Linked DNA regions of Homo sapiens. The protein of the gene in region 1 purifies or fractionates together with the protein of each later gene. This does not show direct contact. Each region holds a gene or a part of one and is shown on either strand. Other genes may lie near its edges.

The links. The genes of interacting proteins can lie anywhere in the genome.
Region 2: the proteins of HSPB8 (region 1) and VWA8 purify together in Homo sapiens (affinity purification with mass spectrometry; 3 studies listed by BioGRID and IntAct, with this or other methods). This does not show direct contact.
Region 3: the proteins of HSPB8 (region 1) and EXPH5 purify together in Homo sapiens (affinity purification with mass spectrometry; 3 studies listed by BioGRID and IntAct, with this or other methods). This does not show direct contact.

What each region holds. Positions count from the first base shown.
Region 1 is NC_000012.12:119,174,892-119,181,951, reverse strand, and holds the start of HSPB8 (heat shock protein beta-8), read right to left. Parts: upstream 3,022-7,060; 5' UTR 2,640-3,021; coding exon 2,273-2,639; intron 786-2,272; exon of another isoform or gene 1-785. UniProt on the Homo sapiens protein: Involved in the chaperone-assisted selective autophagy (CASA), a crucial process for protein quality control, particularly in mechanical strained cells and tissues such as muscle. Displays temperature-dependent chaperone activity.
Region 2 is NC_000013.11:41,881,089-41,888,112, forward strand, and holds part of VWA8 (von Willebrand factor A domain-containing protein 8 isoform a precursor), read right to left. Parts: intron 6,274-7,024; coding exon 6,109-6,273; intron 5,743-6,108; coding exon 5,693-5,742; intron 4,941-5,692; coding exon 4,832-4,940; intron 2,404-4,831; coding exon 2,299-2,403; intron 1-2,298. UniProt on the Homo sapiens protein: Exhibits ATPase activity in vitro.
Region 3 is NC_000011.10:108,590,748-108,598,143, forward strand, and holds the start of EXPH5 (exophilin-5), read right to left. Parts: upstream 3,022-7,396; 5' UTR 2,987-3,021; coding exon of another isoform or gene 2,976-2,986; 5' UTR 2,790-2,975; coding exon 2,671-2,789; intron 1-2,670. UniProt on the Homo sapiens protein: May act as Rab effector protein and play a role in vesicle trafficking.

The DNA of each region.
Region 1 (7,060 bases):
AGAAGGAATGGTGATAATCGGTCTGTTTACAGAGTGCCAGGCAAGCACTATTATTAGCTCCATTTTATAGACACTCCGCATATATTATCATAGATAGTCTGCATATGTTTAATCTTTCCTACACCCTTACAGGACAGATATTATTATGGTCTCCATTCTGCAAATAGGAGAAATGAGGCTCAGAGGGATGAAGACTTTCTCGTCCACATCCGCCATGCTAGTGAACAGCAGTGCTGGGATCTGAACCCAGGTTTCAAAGAGCATCTATTATTCATTATTTATTGGGGCCTTCCTGGATGCCTGACACTATAACAATAACGACGACAATAATAATACTAATTCCTTGTGTTCCAGGTCATAGAATGTGAAAGGAAAATAAATCTTGGGGCCCCCAAATCACTAAGCTAAAGGGAAAAGTCAAGCTGGGAACTGTTTAGGGCCAACCTACCCCCCATTCTATTCAAAGGCAGCCCTCTGCTCACTGACATAGATGCATTATCTGTTTGTCTCCTTTGGAAAGGCTAATCAGAAACTCAAAAGAATGCGACCATTTGTCTCTCACCTACCTGTGACCTGGAAAACCCCTCCCTGCTTCAAGTTGTCCTGCATTTCTAGATCGAACCAATGTACTTCTTACATATATTGATTGATGTCTCATGTCTCTCTAAAATGTATAAAATTAAGCTGTGCCCAGACCACCTTGGGCATGTGACAGGAGGACTTCCTGAGGCTGTGTCATGGGAGTGTCCTCAACCTCGGCAAAATAAACTTCCTAAATGAACTGAGATCTGTCTCAGATTTTCTGGGTTCACAGGTATGTACACATTTTACAGCATCACCTCACTTAAAACAACAATCCTTATGGTATAACCATTTGAACCCTAATTTCCAGATGAGGAAACAAAACAGAAGCACAAAGTGAAGTAATTTGCACATCCTGCTGGTTAAAGTTGGAGCCAGTTTCGGAACTCATGCCCTGCTCCCCAGCCAACTCAGAAATCTGGCTGACCCTGTCATCAGCACGTGGCCCCAGCGTGTCTCCCAGCCCACCACACCCGCTGGAGCCTCTGATGTTTATAATTCTACCAGGACTGGCTTGAAACTCCCCCTGAATGCTGCTGGGGCTTGTTCCTGCCCAGCCTGTGTTTGCAATGGCTTTGACTGATTTTCTGGAAGGCAAGCCTCTGCCGGGAACACATTCTTTTTAATGGAGTGTTAATCAGGAGGGAAGGAAAAGAAAGATTTTTCTACTGCCCAGCTTCACAGGGGCTGAGCTTCCTGTCTTCTCTCATTTTTCCCCCTAGTATGTTTATTTCTCCCAGGGTGGGATGCGGCAGTGAGAGCCCTGGGCCTAAAGCTGTGCATAGGCCCAGTCCCTACTCCACTCCTATTGCTGACTCATGGCATGACTGTGAACGAGTCCCACCTAGGCCTCAGCCTCCTCAGCTGCAAGATGGGCCTACCCTGCTACCCTGGAGTGGACTGAGGATGATTTTGGAGAAGTATAAGAATGTCAGCCCACCCTTGGCACCTAGTAGGTGCTCAGTAAATCATCACTTCTTCTTTCTGGCCTCCTAATTCCCAGACAACCTGGGTCTGACTCCTTGGTGGCCTTGAACAAGTTACTTTAATCTCTCCGTGCCTCAGTTTCCTCATCTGAAAAAAGAAGATAAACAGTACCCACCTCCTCTGGTTGTGGTATTAGCTGAGATATTATAGGCAACAGCAGTTAGCAAAGTGCTGAGCGAATAGTTAGCACTCAGAGTTACCAGTTAGTGTTACTACAATTACTGGTAAGCCTCAGTTTCCCTGTCTGGGACAAGGAGAGGTGTTTCACCGGAAACCAGTTGCGGTTATTAACACTATCATTGTTCAGCCTTAACGTGCACTTCTAGACTCTGTTATGATGCTGGAGTGCACAAAATCCCGTTTCTTCTTTGTTTTTTAATTCTTTGATATCTGCTTAACCTATTCTTTATATTAAATGCCCTCTGTCAAAATATCCAACATGGTTTCTATTTTCCTGTCTGTACCATGATTGATGAGCACCCAGAGGCCCCAATAGCTGAGTCAGGCAGGTTAAGATCTCTGCTGGGAGCCGGGAGAGAAGTTTTCCGTAAAGATAACTTTGCAGGCTGCATTCCTGAGCCCTGAGGTCACCTGTGTCACACTGTCCCAACGTCAGCTCCCAGGAAACTTTCTCTGGCTATTCCCAGGGCTGAGGGCTACATCCCGGCCTCCCCATTCTCTCTCCCTCCTGCCCCTGACTTACCAGACACCTCCACGTATCCATCTTTGGTCTTCACCATCAACTCCTCTGGCTTGAAGCTGTGCACATTCACACACACTTTCCAGGGCTCCCCAGGGAAGGGTGGGGGGGTCCTGCCCTCGGCAGGCACCCCAAACCTGGCGGTGGCAGTGGGGCCCCGGGGCACCATGCCCGACCTTAGGGTGCCTGGCCAGGCGGAGGAGAGACGAGGCAGAGCCCAGTCGGGCCAAGAGGCTGTCAAGTCGTCTGGGAAGGGGTCCATGCCAAAGCCATCATCCAGCAGGCGAGAGGAGAGGGGAGAGTCCCGGAAGGGGTCTCGGCGCAGGCGGCTTGGGTAGTGGCAGGAGAAGGGCATCTGACCGTCAGCCATGGTGGCTGCTCAGCTCAGAGAGAAACAGAGGCTCAGAGAGACAGAACCACCTGCCCAAGGTCACACAACAAGGTGGTGTGGCTGGGCTAGCTTATTCTTCAGCTTCCGAAAATGCTGCTTTTCTGCAGGGAGAAGCAGAACCAACCACTGCCAGGGACGGTTGTGTCCCCTCGACTGGGGTCCCAGCCCCCAAAGGTAACCCCCGGGGCAGATCCAGCAGAATCCCAGAGGGTCCCCGTCCGCACTGCCTCACGACAGACCGGCAAGCCACCGTCCTCCCAGGCTTCCCAGGCTGCCCAGGCTGGCAGCCAGAACCGCTGAGGTCTAGAGCGGAGCCAGGAGCTTAATAAACCCAGGGCACGCGCGCCTAGAAACTTCTTCTGGCTCCTTCTGGGCTGCAAGCCTTCTATTTATTTGCTGCTGGAGGCTGGAGGCGGGTTTTGCAAGCGTCTCCTGTCACAGGAATATTCGGAGGTGATGAACCAGCCCCGGAGAATCCGCGGAGGGAACAGCTGGGCTGTGGGGGGAGCTGGGAGGGGCCGCGTCCAAGTTCAGCCGGCCTCTCCGGACACTCTCTCCTCCCCTGGCCACTCCGCTCAGCTCCGCCCTCCTCTTGCTCCAGGAGCTGGAGCCGCCCTCCCCGAGCGGGGCACTAAGGCCTGGCTATTAATAACCCCGAGCCTGGCTGAGGGCTCAGGTCACCCTCTGGAAATACCTTCCCTAGAGCGTGTCGTATCCTGCCTTTCCCCTGGGGACCTGCAGAAAGGGAAGAGAGAGACAGGAGCCCAGTGGATTTGAAGGATGGCCCTGGGTTGCAATCCCCACTTACAAGATGGCCAAGCTCCTAGAGCCTCAATGCCCTCTGGGGAGATTGGTAAAGGAAAAAAAAAATTTTTTTAATGTGTATATATATATTCATATGACGCTTGTTAAAGTATGACAAGCAAGACTTTACTGGGCAGGGAAACTTTCTCCATAGATGTAGGGACCCCTGCAATGGGATTTTGCAGTGAGGGAGAAAGATTAGACTTGATTCCCAGTAGGTCATGGGTAAGTGTGAATTTGTAGCCAAGAAGCAGGTGGGGGGTCAGCGAATGGAAATTTACTAGGAGGGAAGTCCAGGAGTCAGAGGGATTCGGGCTCAGCTAACCTAAGAGGATTCTTGCTGAAGACAGGCCAGGGTGCTCAGACATCACCTGGGGGACCGCGGAGGATGAGGAAACTAATCAGATATCGAGGGTGATCAGAAATCGAAGATGGGTGGTTGCTACTAAACAGACTTAGCAGAGTTCATGCCAAAACTGAATTTTTCTTTCTTTCTTTTCTTTTTTTTTTTTGAGACAGAGTCTCACTCTGTCCCCCAGGCTAGAGCGCAGTTGCGCCATCTCCGCTCACTGCAACCTCCGCCTTCCAGGTTCAAGCGATTCTTCTGCCTCAGACTCCCGAGTAGCTGGGATTATAGGCACCCGCCATCGTGCCCGGCTAATTTTTGTATTTTTTAGTAGAGTTGGATTTCACCATCTTGGCCAGGCTGGTCTTGAACTCCTGACCTCATGATCCACCTGCCTCCACCTCCCAAAGTGCTGGGATTACAGACGTGAGCCACCTCGCCTGGCCCAAAACTGAATTTTTATAAGGAACCTCACTGATGGGCTTAGGAGAAGATTCAGAAATCCGATTAATGTTTGGTCAATCAAAGCATCTTTATAGGCAGTAACATTATTCCCAGGCACCTCCAGGTTGTTAGTTTTCCTCCTTATAAACGGACATAACAGTAGCCAACTCACAGATGTACCATGAAGAATACATGAGGTAATTCTCTTTCTCCTTGTATTTTCAATTTTGAGTTATCAATTACATAATGTTTGCTATATGCCAGGCCCTGCTCTATGGGCTTTATAAATATGAATTCATTTAACCCTCACCAGCAATCCTGTGAGGTAAGAGTACCAGTATTATCCCATTTTACAGATGAGAAAACTACCATAGAAGTGTTCATGAATAGTAGCTTCTATTATTATTATGACTGTTAATACTGATAATTATTGAAAGATGTTACACTCAGGCAGGAGGTCTGGTCTGAAACTCAAAGCCCCAAATCTAGACTTTCCTGCTCTTCCCATGCAGCTGGAAGAATGAATTTACAAATCCTCCTTTGGCTTGGAGGCCTCTTCGGCTTGGGTTCTAATCTTTGATCTGTCCGCAACAGGCAGAAAATTTTAGGCATGTCGTTTTCCCTGTGTGGGCTTTCGGGTCTCAGCCCTGCCTTCTTCACGAGATGAGGGTAAACTGAGGATATTAAGGAATTCAGTGAGTCATAGGTTGAGAAATTGTTTTGATATTAAACAGTGAGTGCATGAGGCAGTTTGCTAAAAATAATAATACGGAGAAAAACAATCACTGTCGCCCATTGCCTCCTGTGCGTCTGCTTTTAGAGTTAGTACATTTCAGACATTACTGAGTTAAATCCTGACTCGATAGTTAAACGTCACTATTATCATCACCCCCATTTTGCAGGTGAAAAAACAGAGGCACAGAGGTTTGACCCTTGCACACAGATATGGAGTGGCAGAGCCTGGGTGGGAACCTGGGTTGTTCTGAATCCCGGATCTGTGCTTAACCGACAGACAGAGACCCCTGCCCTCCTCCCCAGCTGAGAAAGAATGGTGGGGACCCCACGGCATGACATGTCCCGAGTGACTGGGCCCCCACTGGATGTAGGGTGAGCTCATCAGGCTGGAAGCTTCGGGCTGACGTCATGGCTGGGCACAGAAGCTTCAGCTCTCTCTGTAATTACAGCTGGGCGGGGCTGGCTGAGTTGGAAACCAGTTGTGGGGAGAATCACTGCAAGCCGCATGACGCACCGGAGAAACCTGGCCCTGCCTGGGACCTGGGCAGGGGCTGGGGTGAGGTTTCTGAGTGGGTGGGACAGAGTGGAATGAGTTTGTGTGCGGATTTGAGTGGGTGCAGGAGTGAGTCTGTGTTTATGCGCCGATAGGTCTGTGTTTGTTTATCGCCGAGTCTGCTGGTGGGTATGTTCAGGAAGAAACTCCCCTCCTTTTCCCTTCCCAGGCCATCCCCAAACCTCCAGAGGACCCCTCTGCCTCAAATGAGGCTCAGTTGGGACCAGGGGACCTGGAAGGAGGGGAAGCCTGGCGAAGGAGCAGGGAACCGAGCTGTGATGACCTAATCCACCTTCTCATTTCAAGGATGAGGGGGACGAAAGGGAGGATGCAAAGGTAGAAAATAGAAATAACAATCACTGGCATTTACGGGGCACTTGCCCCGTGCCAGCTTCTGTTCTGAGCACTTTAAATGTATGTTCCTAAACTCTTTTACTTCTCCCCACAATCCTATTAGGAAGGATGTTTTTAATTTATTTATTTATTTTGAGATGGAGTTTCACTCTTGTTGCCCAGGCTGGAGTGCAACGGCATAATCTTGGCTCACTGCAACCTCTGCTTCCCGGGTTCAAGTGATTCTCATGCCTCAGCCTCCAGAGCAGCTGGGATTGCAGGCACCTGCCACCACCCCTGGCTAATTTTTGTATTTTTAGTAGAGACAGGTTTTCACCATGTTTGTCAGGCTGGTCTCGAACTCCTGACCTCAGGAGATCCACCCACCTCGTCCTCCCAAAGTGCTGGGATTACAGGCATGAGCCACCATGCCCGTCAGGAAGGATGTTTTATTAAACTCATTTTAGAGATGAGGAAACTGAGGCACAGAGAGATTACCTGACATGCCTATGTCAGTGGCAGAGCTGGGATTTGAACCCCGGGCAGTTTGGTTCTTGTCTCATCTGCTACACTGCCTCTGAAGTCAAAGTCATGGCTCACATTTATTGAACACTAACCATGTACCCGGCCCTGTGGTCAACAGTTTTATCCATGACCTCATGGAATCCTTGTGGTTCAGAGAGGTCAAGCCACCTGCCCTGGACCACACAGCTGACCAAGGATTGGAATCCAAGCCAGGGCGCACTTGGCAGTGCACGGTAATAACCACTATGGGACAATATTGGCCCAGCCTTGCCCAGCGAGCCTTCCACACTGCCTGGTGTCCTGTTCCCCCTTGGGCTCTCATTGCATTTCTGGATCTGGTCAGCCCTTCATTTCAGGAAGCTGAGGAGGGAGGCAGCTGCTCCTGCTAACTCGGCCACCTGGTGAGGAGTTAGCTAACACATGAGGAAAGTGGTCACTAAACCCCATGGGCTGTCACCAATCAGGTGAAAATATGACGCCAGGCTCAGGGGAGGCCCGGGAGAAGAAGGGGCCTCCAAGCTGGTTCCGCCAGGGAAGAAGAGACCTTAGAGGGGACTGTGGTACAGGGGAAGGATGTTAGATCCTGGGAACCAGAGCCACGTTTCTCTTGGCTGCCATCCTCATAGAGCTTTCGTACGGGGCGTACCACCATTAATTCTC
Region 2 (7,024 bases), on another chromosome or scaffold:
ATGGATTCCTATTTTATGTAACAGGTTAAAACCAATTACCATCATCATTTATTTTTATGCTCAAATTGTCCCAGATTTCAGCCACTTCAACCTGGGAACTCCATCATTTTGACATATCGACATCATTTGTTGAATATTTCCTTACTCTCTGGCACAAAAAGATGGTCCAGGCTCATCTTCTGCATTCCCTGACCTAATCCTTTTAGAGAGCATGGTATTTAGAAACCAATGTCCAGGTACTTGGTATGATCACTGCTACTAGAACATCATAGTTTTTTTTTGCCGGGGGGGGGGGGGGGGGGGTAAGGTCACAGATCAACAGGATAAGAATTTTTCTTAGTACAGAACAAAATGAAAAGTCTCCCATGTCTACCTCTTTCTACACAGACACGGCAACCATCCGATTTCTCAATCTTTTCCCCACCTTTCCCCCCTTCTGTTCCACAAAACCGCCATTGTCATCATGGCCCGTTCTCAATGAGCTGTTGGGTACACCTCCCAGACGGGGTGGTGGCCAGGCAGAGGGGCTCCTCACTTCCCAGTAGGGGCGGCTGGGCAGAGGGCTCCTCACTTCCCAGTAGGGGCGGCCGGGCAGAGGCGCCCCTCACCTCCCGGACGGGGCGGCTGGCCGGGCTGGGGGCTGACCCCCCCACCTCCCTCCTGGACGGGGCGACTGGCTGGGCAGAGGAGCTCCTCACTTCCCAGTAGGGGCGGCCGGGCAGAGGTGCCCCTCACCTCCCGGACGGGGCGGCTGGCCGGGCGGGGGGCTGACCCCCCCACCTCCCTCCCGGACGGGGCGGCTGGCCTGGCGGGGGCTGACCCCCACCTCCCTCCCGGACGGGGTGGCTGCTGGGCGGAGACGCTCCTCACTTCCCAGACAGGGTGACTGCCGGGACGGAGGGGCTCCTCACTTCTCAGATGGGGCGGCTTCCGGGCGGAGGGGCTCCTCACTTCTCAGACGGGCGGTTGCCAGGCGGAGGGTCTCCTCACTTCTCAGACGGGGCGGCCGGGCAGAGACGCTCCTCACCTCCCAGACGGGGTCGCGGCCGGGTGGAGGTGCTCCTCACATCCCAGACGGGGCGGCAGGGCAGAGGCTCTCCCCACATCTCAGACGATGGGCGGCCGGGCAGAGACGCTCCTCACTTCCTAGATGGGATGGCGACCGGGAAGAGGCGCTCGTCACTTCCTAGATGGGATGGCGGCCGGGCAGAGACGCTCCTCACTTTCCAGACTGGGCAGCCAGGCAGAGGGGCTCCTCACGTCCCAGACGACGGGCGGCCAGGCAGAGACGCTCCTCACTTCCCAGACGGGGTGGCGGCCAGGCAGAGGCTGCAATCTCGGCACTTTGGGAGGCCAAGGCAGGCAGCTGGGAGGTGGAGGTTGTAGCGAGCCGAGATCACACCACTGCACTCCAGCCTGGGCACCATTGAGCACTGAGTGAACCAGACTCCGTCTGCAATCCCAGCACCCCGGGAGGCCAAGGCTGGCGGATCACTCGCGGTTAGGAGCTGGAGACCAGCCCGGCCAACACAGCGAAACCCCGTCTCCACCAAAAAAATACGAAAACCAGTCAGGCGTGGCGTCGCGCGCCTGCAATCGCAGGCACTCGGCAGGCTGAGGCAGGAGAATCAGGCAGGGAGGTTGCAGTGAGCCGAGATGGCAGCAGTACAGTCCAGCTTCGGCTGGGCATCAGAGGGAGACCGTGGAAAGAGAGGGAGAGGGAGACCGTGGGGAGAGGGAGAGGGAGAGGGAGAGCAATCCTATTTTTTTAACTAAATATGAGAACATCATAGTTTTTAGGCTGCCTTAGGAGACAGCTAGAAAATATGTGTATGTATACATATACACATACTATCTCTATCTATTTGTTCATATATATTGTTTAAAAAAAGTCATGATTCATAATAACACCAATTCCAATCCAATACCTTAGAGTTTTTTCTTGCCTTCCCCCTTTCCATGGTTATAAATCCCTCATCCAACAGTGAGAAGCATAACTCTTATTATCCTTAATATATTCATTCATTTGCTCAATCTATTTACTTATTTGCTCAACATAACCAATCTCCCAATCACACCAGCCCCTGTGTGTTTGCTGCCCTATTTATCACAGCTGTCTTCTTGTTGGAATGCTGATACCTCCATGCCTGGTAAAGAATGGAGGGGAAGGGAAAGGAAAGAAATAAGGATGGGGAGAGAAAAATAGGAAAGGTGGGGAAAGGAGTGAGGGGAAGATGGGAAAAGGCAAGGGAAGGGAAAATGGGAAAAGAAAGGAAAGAAAGGGAAGCAGACACTCACCTTTAAAACACCTTCCACAGCCATCTTCCCTTCATGACCTAGTAAAATACTATATGGATAAAGCCACTGGATTGCATGTTTGATTGGCATCATAGGAAAGGAATCCTATGTAGGAGCAAAAATACATAGGAATGAGCAAAATTCAAAATAATCACAGAAAACATCTGAAATGTACATATGACATTAAAATTGACTTATAAAAGTAACCAATAGGTGTCTGGTATTTTCTGTAAGTCTACAAAAGCAAATATTCATTATTTTCTCTTCTCATTCCTTGCCCTTTCTCTGGGTAAGCTTACCCATTCCCATCTTTCATTTATCTTCTATGTATTGATGGCTCCCACACTTCTATGTCTGGTCTTGACTTCTTTCTTGAGCTCTAAACCTGAACCCTCAATTGTTCATTACATGTGACTATATGAATATCCCATAGACCCCCATTTGAAACAGAATACATGTCTCTACCTTATTCATCCCAAAGTACCTGATCCCTTTTTATTCCTAAGTTAATCTCATCCACATTCACTTAGCTTCACAGTTATAACTACAAAATTAGAAAGTATTCATTATCCTCAAATCCTTCCTCACATTATCTGCACTGTCAATTCTGTTCACCCCACTTTAAAAGTCTGTTGACAAGAAAGATTAGTGAAATTTCAATATGAACTATCTATTAGATGATACTATGGATTACTGTTAACATGATATGAAGTGTGATAATGTTGTTCTGGTTATGTAGAAGAATGTCCTAATTCTTAGAAGTTGCATACTGATATGGTTTGGCTGTGTCCCCACCCAAATCTCATCTTGAATTGTAGCTCCCACAATCCCCACGTGTCATGGGAGGGACCCAGTGGGAGACAACTGAATCATGGAGGCAGTTAACCTCCATGCTGTTCTCATGATAGTGAGTTCTCATGAGATCTGATGGCTTTATAAAGGGCTTTTCCCCTCCTTCACTCTGCACTTTTCTCTCCTGCCACCATGTGAAGGACGTGTTTGCTTCCTCTTCCACCACGATTGTAAGTTTCCTGAGGCCTCCATAGCCTTGCAGAACTGTGAGTCAATTAAACCTCTTTTCTTTATAAATTACCCAGTCTCAGGTATTTCTTCATAGCAGCGGGAGAACGAACTGATACACACACTGAAGTATTTAAGAGTACTGACTGCAATTTACTTCCAAATGGTTCAGGAAAAAAAAAAAGAAAAAAGCACATGCAAACAAATGTGGCAATATATTAATAATGGGTGATTGTAGGTGAGGGGATTATGAATGTTTTACTGTTTTTCAACTTTTTTTTACATTTGAGAATTTTCAAAGTAAAATGTTCTAAGCAAAAACAAAAGATTTCATAAGAATTTTCAAAATAAAATGTTCTAAGCAAAAACAAAAAGATTTGATAAAAGTATAAGATTTGATAAACAGGAGGAGAAATTCTGTTCTGGATGTATAGAACAATGTCAACAATACCTAGGCTCCCTGACTCACATGAAACATACATATATACATACATACATACATACATACATACATACATACATACATACAAGTTTAAAAATAAGTCTCTTGCCTAAGATAGTATTCCCACTATCTTGGATGGTGCCCTCCTCCACAGGGTCTCACTGAGTGTTACAAAAGCTTCCTAGTCATTCCCTCACTTCCAACAAAGGTGTCTTCCTCCAACATAAGTCTGGTCACATTCATAGCCCACCAACTTAATATTGTCTGATAAGCCACTTTTTCCATATCATAAAATCCAGGAAACTTCATTCATCATGCAAAACATTTCACAATAGCGGTCTGACTTCTCCCTCTACCACACACACTTGCTTTAGGGATACAACTTATTCTCATTCTCCAAAGATACTAGGCCCTTTTGTGATTAAACACATTTGCCTGTGCTTTGACTTCCTGGGCCTTTTATCACTCCAGACATGACCGCCATGCCCTTTGTGAAACTGTAGTGGACAATGTCTGTACTCTATCAGATCCCCTCAGATCTGTTTGCATTCTCTCTTGTGCCTCCTAGCTTTCTCTTCCAACAGCAATTGCTGTAGGTCTTTCTAAGAAGACGATCCTTGGGCTCTTGAAGCCACCCTTGCACACATGCTGGGAGAGCAGTTAGTGTCTGGGAATTTGTGTCCCCTGAGACAACCATGACACAGAGACTGATGGAAGCTAGAACAGTGTGAAAGCCCTAGCTCCCCTAACTCAGGTAAGGACAGCTCTGAGGCCTAACTCACACTGCAGCACACCTCTTACTTGATCAGGCTAAAGCCTTCCTTCCCTCTGTAGAACTTTACTGAGATTGCATGTCTAGCTCCTACTCCAAAGCTGAAAGCTCTTTAGGGGCTCAGAACATGTCCTTGGTCTCTGTACAGTTTACTGCACTGCACAACAAATTAATCTCAGGCCTTACAATATTTATAGAAGAGTATGACAAAAGCAAACTGAAGTCATTAATCCCTAATGATTAACTTTCAAAATTTTTAACATATTTGGGTATGCCAGTCATTAATTTATTTTACTTACCAAGATTTGAACCGCAGCTGCTAAACTATCTAAAGGAAAGTCTGGAAGTCCAAGAGTAGAAGATTCTTGGGAACACAGAGTTGTGGCAAAGGACAAGAGCTGAGAAACTCTAAGGGAAAAATGATATTAAATTTTAATAGTTTTAAAATATAAAATGTGTAAGTTGTTAAATATAAAATACAGGGGCCAATTTAATTAATCTAAAAAAGATCCCTAATATTAATTCTTAAGGAACAATGGTTCCGCATCATAATATCCTACTTAAAACTCAGAAGCTGATTAGATGCAAATATATTCCTAAATTCATCACAATATTTGAGGTTTTTCACCACCTGGTCCAAATCTACCCTGCCAGCCTCATCTCTCACATTTCGTAATCCCAAACCTAAACTCTAGCCTCCAAGAGTTTTTTATGGCCCTAAAAACAAGGCATAAACTCTCACATTCCATGCTTTTAAAACAAACAAACAAACAAAACAAAAAAAAAACACTTGTTGTGTTCGAATTTCTTGATTCCACTCTCTATCTGGCAAAAACTTGCTCATTATTTAGGACCCATTTCAAACACCAATGCTTTTATGAAGCCCTTATAAAGTCTCAACTAATGCCCCCAAATATTTTCAAATTATGGCACTTACTATACCATGTTAACCAAAGCTATTCACATATCTTTCAACTCTATTAGATCTTGAGTTTCCTGCCAAAGATATCTTATTAATTTTATCACCAAACATCCTAATACTGAAAAATTCTTATAAGAATTCTAGTTGTTGAATGACTGAATTAATTAATCAATCAATCAATGAACAGGCAAAACAAATTCAATATTCAGTGTCCAGACATTTATAAAAATATACTTACTTCTCAGCAGAAACATTGGCTCCAATTGAATATAACAACTTAAGTTGGTCCTAAAGTAATACAGAAACATATTAAATTAATTAACAAGAAATGTAACAGATTAAATGCAAATGTTTTGTAGATACAATCCAACCTTTTAATTAAGCAGACACTAAATATTTAACAGCAAAAAATCATTTATTGATACATTTCATTTTCTAAAAGAAAAGCCAGCCTTTTAAAAAAAATCCTTCAAATAATGCCATAATAATTTTTCTTCCTAGTTTCCAGAGCTTTTCTTTACTCTTTATTCTCATATCTTTCCATGACCTACTCAGGAAGACATTCAAAACTGCAGTAACATTTTTATAGCATTGAAGTTCTTGTTATAAATAGAAAAACTGTTTAACAAATAAATTATCCTTGGTCTTACTTACCTTGAAGGGTAAATAATAAATATCCCTGGCTTGAAATCGAGAACGAAGAGGGGGGTCTAATGGATTCCCAGAATACCTTGGCACTGGCAAGCCCAAGGCAATCACTCGGAAATTTTCACTAACTCGGACAATTTTCCAAGAATCCAACTCTTTTTTGGTATGATCCTATAAAAGTAAGAGATCCGGAAGCTATAGCATAAATGATACAAATCACAACTGTAAGAGCTGCCAAGTCCAGGGACTTAGGACTTGACTGTTGAGAAAACTGTATTGGAGAACACTCTCAAATCCATACTGTCAAGGAAGGCAGCAAAGTGAAATCAGGTTCAGGATGCCAGGGCAGGCTCACAACATGAAGACTGGGGTGTTTGAAAGGAAAAGCAGTTAACACACCAAGGAATAAAGGAGACTTGGGTCAGATCTCCAAGCCTTAGTCAGTAACACAGAGGAAAACAGTCAGGGGGTAAGGAAAATACATGACTAGAGGTTGTAACAAAGGTAGTCCCCGACGGGCAGATCACCAGCAAAGCTGTGATTGATTACCAGTGGACCTTAAATAGATAATTATGTTTATGGTTATTCCTAGCAAAGCATATTACTAGCAATAACTAACATGTTTTGGAAACTTACTATGTGGTAAGCACATTCCATGGATTTTTCTCATTTAACTTTCACCAGAATCCAATATAGACTATCTCCTTTTTATATGAATGAATGAATCAAAGTTCAAAGGAGTTATATAACTTGCCCATCGTCCTGCAACTAGCATACAGTGGAGCTTAGAGAATGGAAACAGTATGGGTTTTAGAGTCACAAATCCTGGCTCAACTGCTTGATGTACACTTTTACTAAATGTTAGCGTATGCATGGTATTATACCTTTGGAACCTTAGCCTTCTTAGTAGGAAAAATATCAC
Region 3 (7,396 bases), on another chromosome or scaffold:
GGGATCCTCCCACCTGAGCCTCCTGAGTAGCTAGTACTGCAAGTATGTGCCACAATATCAGGCTAAATTTATTTTTAATTTTTATTGTAGAGACATGGTCTCTCTGTGTTGGTCAGGCTGGTCTCAAACTCTTGGCCTCAAGCGATCCTTTTGCCTCAGTCTCCCAAAGCACTGGGATTACAGGCGTGAGCCACCGGGCCCAGCCCCAACTATAGGGTGCCTGTATTTCTTCTTAGTTGTCTTGCAGATACCTCAAGCCTATCATAGATATAAATGAACTCATCAGCCATTCCCCAACCTGCTAAATTTCTAAACTTCCCCATTTGGACCCTTATTGTTCTAGTCAAGAGGTCTTGAAGCTCTTTCTCAATACAGTAAAAAGGCTTCCCTGAGTCTCTCAGACAGGCCTGTTGAAGCATCTCTTTTTTGTTGTTGTTCACATATGCCAAGCCAGAACAGAATGAAATTATACTCTTGAGTTATAAGTCATGTGTCCTGATTTTTGATTTGGAAAATATGATCACACATATCAAGAAAATGAGCAGAAGAGGCAGCCAAGTTGCCATGTTGTCTCAGGCCCTTTCTGCATGCCAATATCTGATACTGAAATTAATACATGTGAGCCTGAAGTGGGTAAGCAGAACAATCCCATGGAGCCTGCAAGCCAGACATGGGTATTTGATAGTGGAAGTGGGGAATTAATCAAAGGAAAAGACAGTACTAGAAATCATTGCCTTGGGTATTTGGTCCACACATCTACTTTCCTTAAATGATTTTTGTATTTTAATGGTGATATTTTTCAAATTGTTTGGGCAATTAAATACTTTTAATAATTAGTATAATACAGTATCGATTTTGTCTTAGCATTATGGCTTTTTCTGTTGATGCTTCCATTAGAATATGAGTGCCATGAAATTAGAAAATGTGTTTTGACCTTCCTTCTAATGCCCAGCCCAATGGCTTTGTGTAGATACACGTGCTTTGTGTAGATCTATGTGGAGATCCAGTTCCCTCTAAAGTCAACTGCAGTGGGCATCGTGAGTTGCAATAGAGAAAACACAATAAGGCAAGCAAGCATCAGGTCAAAAATAAAAAGTCAAGATAACATCTTAAATGAAAGCTTCTCTCCTTGTTATTTTCTAACTCTCCCCTCAATTTCCCCAAATATACAATGGATCACTTAAGAAGCCCCATCCTCTTCAGAGACAAGAAACATTTCCAATAACACACACTGAGAATAACCGCAGTTTCTTAGTGCCTTTGGAATATGCACTGAAATTCCGTGCAGTTCTGAAATTCTTCTTCTGAAAGTTGGGTGTGCCTTGTGCGGTGCATGTGCATATGTGTAGGTACATTATGCACGTGGGTGTGTGTGGGTGTGGCATACTGTTCTCCTGAAGGCACACTTTCTACACTGTTCAGGGGAGGGGAATGATAAAGCCACTTTTTCTCAAGGCAGATGGTATGAAATCCATATTCCCCAACCTCAAATATTCCTTCATCCCTCAAAGAGTCATGTTTAGGGGAGAAGGGTGAAGTCAGGGCATTGGGCTTAGTGTATTCTAATTCTTTCTACAAAGACCAACTAGATTTTCCAATTTGAAGAGGGTCCCTGGAGGGTTTCTTTTGTCGGCGGTGGGGGACAGGCAATTCTAGAAAGAATTGGGAACCTGGAACTCGCATTAGCAAGCAGTTGATCATAAAACAAAATGACTTGCTAAATTCCAATCAATGGCACACAGTGTGGTCTGAGAGTGATGTCCTGAATTCCCTTCCACAGTTATCTAGAGAAGGACTTAGATGGATATATTCCAATATTGGCGAGAGAGTCCCTTTAATTCATTCCAGCACTTATCCCACACTTCCCCAGCAGAAAAACTGGTTAATGTACATCCTGGGTAATTATCTGTGTCTCTGGATTTCATTCTTTAGTAACTAATCCCTCACCTACAACAGTGTATAGTAAGGTCAAGGATGAAATTTCTCAGAAACTCGCTCCCCACAGCACCACGCACAAGAAGACCCACCCATTCCAGCCAACCCCGTGTGTCCAAGTCCCATTCGCCCACATAAGCCTCTATTTGACAAATTCCTCGAGCTCCTACCCTTGGGGTGGGGACCTTTCGCCTCCCGTGAGGTGCCGGCTCTCCCGTGCTTCGCTGACTGCCCGCATTGGGTGGGGAGATTCGCCTCTGGTGCCGAGGGAAAACTGCGTTAGGCGAGGGTGGAAGCTCTGTCGGACCCGTGCGAGCACGTGGGTGCGCGCGGGCCGCGGAGTGAGCAGCAGCCAGGATTCCTCTCCAGATCGCGCCCCCGCCGCATTTCATTGCCTGAAACGGCCCACGCCCCGCGATGGCCCAGCAGACACCCGGCACAGCACAGCGTCACTGCGCGGCCCCCGCAGCGCACGGACCCCCCCACCCTGCCCGACCCCAGACCCGCAGCCGAGCCCGTCTGGTATGTGGTGGGTGGAGAGGGTACCAACTAAGCATCCCAAAGTCCTTCAGGGAGCAACTCCGCGCAGTTTTCTCTTCCCGACCCGCAGCCTCCGCAGCAGCCGCTCGGAGCACCCCCGGGCAGGTGCCCCGCGCGAGCTCAGCGCCTTCCCCGCGGATCCCCGGCCCCTGCGGGACCCAGGCCCAGGACAAAAGAAATGAATTTGCTCTGTACCTGATCCTGTCCTTCTCGGCCCTCTGTAACTCCTCATTCCTTTCCAGCACCTGAAGGATCTTCCTGGCCTCTTCGTCATTTAAGAAACTGAAATCAAACGCCGGAGGAACTTTCGTCATTTTCTTTACTGTGTGTGAGTTACACTTAAGCTCCTTGGCGCCTCCTGTTAGGAAGGCATTTTTCAACCTGTACAAGACCAGTTTCACGAACTTGATCCCACAGCCAATAATAAGTCCGCCCCTTTGAAAGTCTAAAACCACAAACCTAGGGAACGCCCACACCTGAAGGGCTCATATTGACAATACCTTAATGACATGTTTCTCTCAACCTGTCCAACCGAGATGCAAAGTGAACGGCTAAAGGGAGAGAGGGAACCAATCCCGTTCCAAGGGGGCGGGCCCTCCCTTGTCCCCTCCCTCGTCCCCTCCCTCGTCTCGTCCCGTCCCTCGTCCCCTCCCTCGTCCCCTCCGGTCACCCTCCCCGCCCCCTATCTGAGTTGTTAAGCAAACAAGCCTACATAATTCTGCCTCTTAAGTGAGGCAAGGCTAAGTGTTGGCGCCAAAGTATTTGCTTTTGCTGTTGCTGTTTGCTCGCAGAACTTGAGCTTGATTAGTAAAGGAGTGAAAAAGGAGATTCATGACTAATCCTCCCTTTCAATAATTAAGAGCCCATAGAAAATAGAATTGCAAGTAGGGTTTGTAACTGGCAAAAGGGTTACTTATCTGAAAGACCAGGAAGAACTAAACTCAATTACACTACTGACTGTGGATGAACCTGGCTGAAGGGCGGAAATTAGTGTATCCTTGGAAACGAATTATTTGCCAAGCCTCTCATCCCACAGACACCCCCACCTCCACTGTCCCACAAAAGTCATTCTTAGACTTTAGAAACAAACAAACAAACAAACAAAACCGTTTATGGTATTTTAGGAGAAGACAGCCCAGAAGCAAAGGACTGTAGAAAACACCTGTTAGAAGTTTTCTGTAAGATTTTATTATCATCTTAATAAACTCAGAGAAGTAATACACATGCCATTTAAAAATACCTAATCCTCTGGTGAAAGCAAATGGTAATCCTATGAAGCCACAGAAATAGCTTTCCTAGAAAGTCAATTGTTCCACAATGCAATGAAGAATAATAGAAACTTATAAAGATATTCACATATATACTTTTTTTTTAATTATCAAGGCTTTTACAGAAAACATGTTTTTATCTTGGCTTCACTTCCTACCCAAAAATAACTCTGTCAGATTGACTTTCCTGCCCCATAGCCTTAATTTGGTCATTTTGAAGATGGTGGTGATGATTACTAACATATAAAATGTACTTCTACATATATCATTTCTTTTCATGGCACATAAACCCAATTAAAATTTTGTATCTGTACAAGAACATGATATCAAAAATTGCCACTTGTGTTTTGTTCTCTGGGCTACCCCATTTGATCATCATTATTTAAAACATGCCTAGGCAGCTAGCCATTCAGATAACTTTCTGTGGGTGTCTGTTATTTGTGTGAACCAGGAACCAATTTTGTTCACCCATGGTGTACACAATACAGAACTCCTTTATAAATAGTGTCTGTATTAATGATCCTGTTTTGGGAGTATGTCTTGTATATGGTGTCCAGTTTTTCTAGTGTGTTCATTTATTCAGCATACACATGGGACTTTTCAATATGGTCACTGGTGGGATTTTACACTGTTTCCAGTATATCAGTGAACTGATTTCAACCAACGTATCCTGGTGCCTATTACATGAAGGCATCACACACTGTGAACAACACAGTCCTTGTCTTTAGAAAGTTTGTAATCCAGTGGGAGAGATACACAAATAGAAAGATGACTATGTAAAAAAGAACATAATAGAGGAATAAAGAAAATTCCATGAGCACACAGAAAAGTTAGTGCCAACTGAGTGGATGGAGAGAGGATACGGTATTTAGGTTGCTGCATGAAGAGTCAGATTTCAAGAGGAAGAAATAGGGGGTGGTGGGAGGAGATGTGTGAGTCTATTCTAGGCAAGGGGATCAGCGTGCTGAATAGCAGAAGTACAGTCTAGGAATCTTCTCATATTCCCTCAACCTCTTTAATGGCCAGACTGAACAAAAGCTTGGAAGCTAGAAAACACTGGAGCATGTTCATGGATTGTTAAGTGATCTGTTTTGGCAGAGCATGTAGTCTCCACAGGGGTAAAATCTTCCTCTTTTTATGTAGAAAGCACAAATCTACACATGATACACAGATACACAGTATATCTGAAGTATTAACATTGCACAAGGGAGGTGATTGTGAAAAAAGTTCTAAAAAGGTGCATTGTGGGGACAGTAGTGAGAAAGAGGTTTAGAAACACTGGGCTAGTGCTCAGAGCACAGTGAGCTGAAAGGTAGGCTGAGCTCTGACTATGAATGCCATGTGATGAAATCTAGACTTCATTGTGTAAGCACTGAGGAGCTAATACAGGTTTTGAGGGTGATAATGATACAGTTAAAATTGAACTTAAGGCCGGGCACAGTGGCTCACATCTGTAGCCCCAGCACTTTGGGAGGCGGAGGCGGGCAGATCACGAGGTCAGGAGATTGAGACCATCCTGGCTAACACAGTGAAACCCCGCCTCTACTAAAAATACAAAAAATTAGCCCAGCATGTGCACCTGTAGTCCCAGCTACTCGGGAGGCTGAGGCAGGAGAATCGCTTGAACCCGGGAGGCGGAGGTTGCAGTGAGCCGAGATCACACCACTGCACTCCAGCCTGGGCAACAGAGTGAGACTCTGTCAAAAAAAAAAATTGAACTTTGGGTAGATTACTCTGATAGCAGTAGACAAGAAGAGTAGAGTGAAGATGGCATCAAGGAAACCATTGTGTTGGAATGCTGATGCAGGAGAAAGGGAAAGAGGACCCAACCAAAGGCAATGTAAGTGAGAGTAGAAAAAGAGGGTGGAATTCCAAAGATATTGGCTGGATTTGATAACTCATTAAAAAGGAGGATTAAGAAAGACAGAGACGCAAAGATGATGCAAGATCTCAAGAGAGATGTCTAAAAGGAGACCAGTCTATTTGATAGTATGAGAAACAAGGTTTGTCAAGAAATCAGGTGTTCAGTTTTTGGCACAAGCAGTTTGAGGTACCTGCAATTCATCCACATGGCAATTTAAAATGAGAAATGTGGGACTCAAGTTCTTGAAACAGGGATGGAGAAGTAGACTGGGAAGTTGTCTGCTTAAAAATGGTTGCCAAAACCCTAAGATAGCAAAGGAAGGATGAGGAGCAGAAGCTGAGTTGAGAACTTTGAGTGTCCAACCTCATCAGACTTCAGCACTGAGGCATGCTTCAGCCCTGGGTTGTGGCACAATGGGGCATACTATTGAGAAATTTTTATATTGAGAAATTTACAAGGCATTGGGGACTGCCCTGGAAACCATACAGAACTGCTTTTGTGGAGTTTTAAACACAATGCTCTTAAAATTAAAATAATTCTCCAAAGGTTTGTTTTATGGGCTTATTTAGCCGGAGGCAAGCAGCCATTTTCAATCTTAGTATCCGGTAATCCTGGCAACCTTTTGCCCAGGCTCTCAGCTAAAGAGATACTCATCAGTTTAGTATTTAATAGTCACAGCTGGATAGAAAGCAGTGATCTTTAGAAATCTCTCATAGTCCCCTACCCTCTCTAGTCTGTTGGCCAAATCCCCACCACAGGGCTTAGTTTTTTCCATCCTTGACAATCACCAAGCCAAGAGACATGCTGATCACATCACTTGCTTGAATGTCTGATTTTTTTATTTTTATTTTTATTTTTCTTGAGATGGAGTCTCACTCTGTTGGCCAGGCTGGAGTGCAGTGGCTCAATCTCAGCTCACTGCAATCTCCGCCTCCAGGGTTCAAATGATTCTCCTTCCTCAGCCTCCCAATTAGGTGGGATTACAGGCGCACGCCACCGCACCCAGCTAATTTTTGTATTTTTATTAAAGAAGGAGTTTCACTATGTTGGACGGCTGATCTTGAATTCCTGACCTCAGGTGATTTAAATATTAACATAGTTTGCTTTATCATTAGATCAAAGTAATAACACATTATTATCAAAAGTTCTCTGATAAAATTCAAGATTGCTTTTTGTTAGGACTAAACTAAATTGAGCTAAATTTAAAAATACTTGGTAATCCTTTAGAAAGGATTTTTCCTTGATGTGGCAAGGAATGTCTGTCCCAGACAACACCAGTATTATAATTAATGGTGAGTCTGTGAAGTAACAACAAATCAGAGGTACCTGCTATTCCCTGTCTTGTGTAACATTGTTCTGGTAGTTCTAGTTGATACAATAGGGAAGGAAAAAAACAATGTGGTGTAACTCTTAGAAAAGAGAAAATTGATCATAGATGATAATTATCTACTTAGGAAAAAGACCAAAGAAATTTGTTAAAAAAAACCACAAAAACTATTAGAACTAAAGAAGGAGTACGAATTAGTGGCCATGTGTGGCTTCATTCAAAAAATATTTATGGAATGTCTACTATCCATTGGGAAATGTTCTAGGAGCTGTGTAGACAAGATGTTCCTGCGCTCAAAACGTTAGCTTCTAATGCATAGAGGTTAAAAAATAAATAAATAAACAAATCAACATCAATTTAGAGTGTGATAAGTGTTGTGAACCAAGTAAACAGGGTGGAGAATGGGAGGGATGCAGGGAGGGCTCCAGCCAGAGTGGTCAGGCTGGAGACTGACCCGCATGA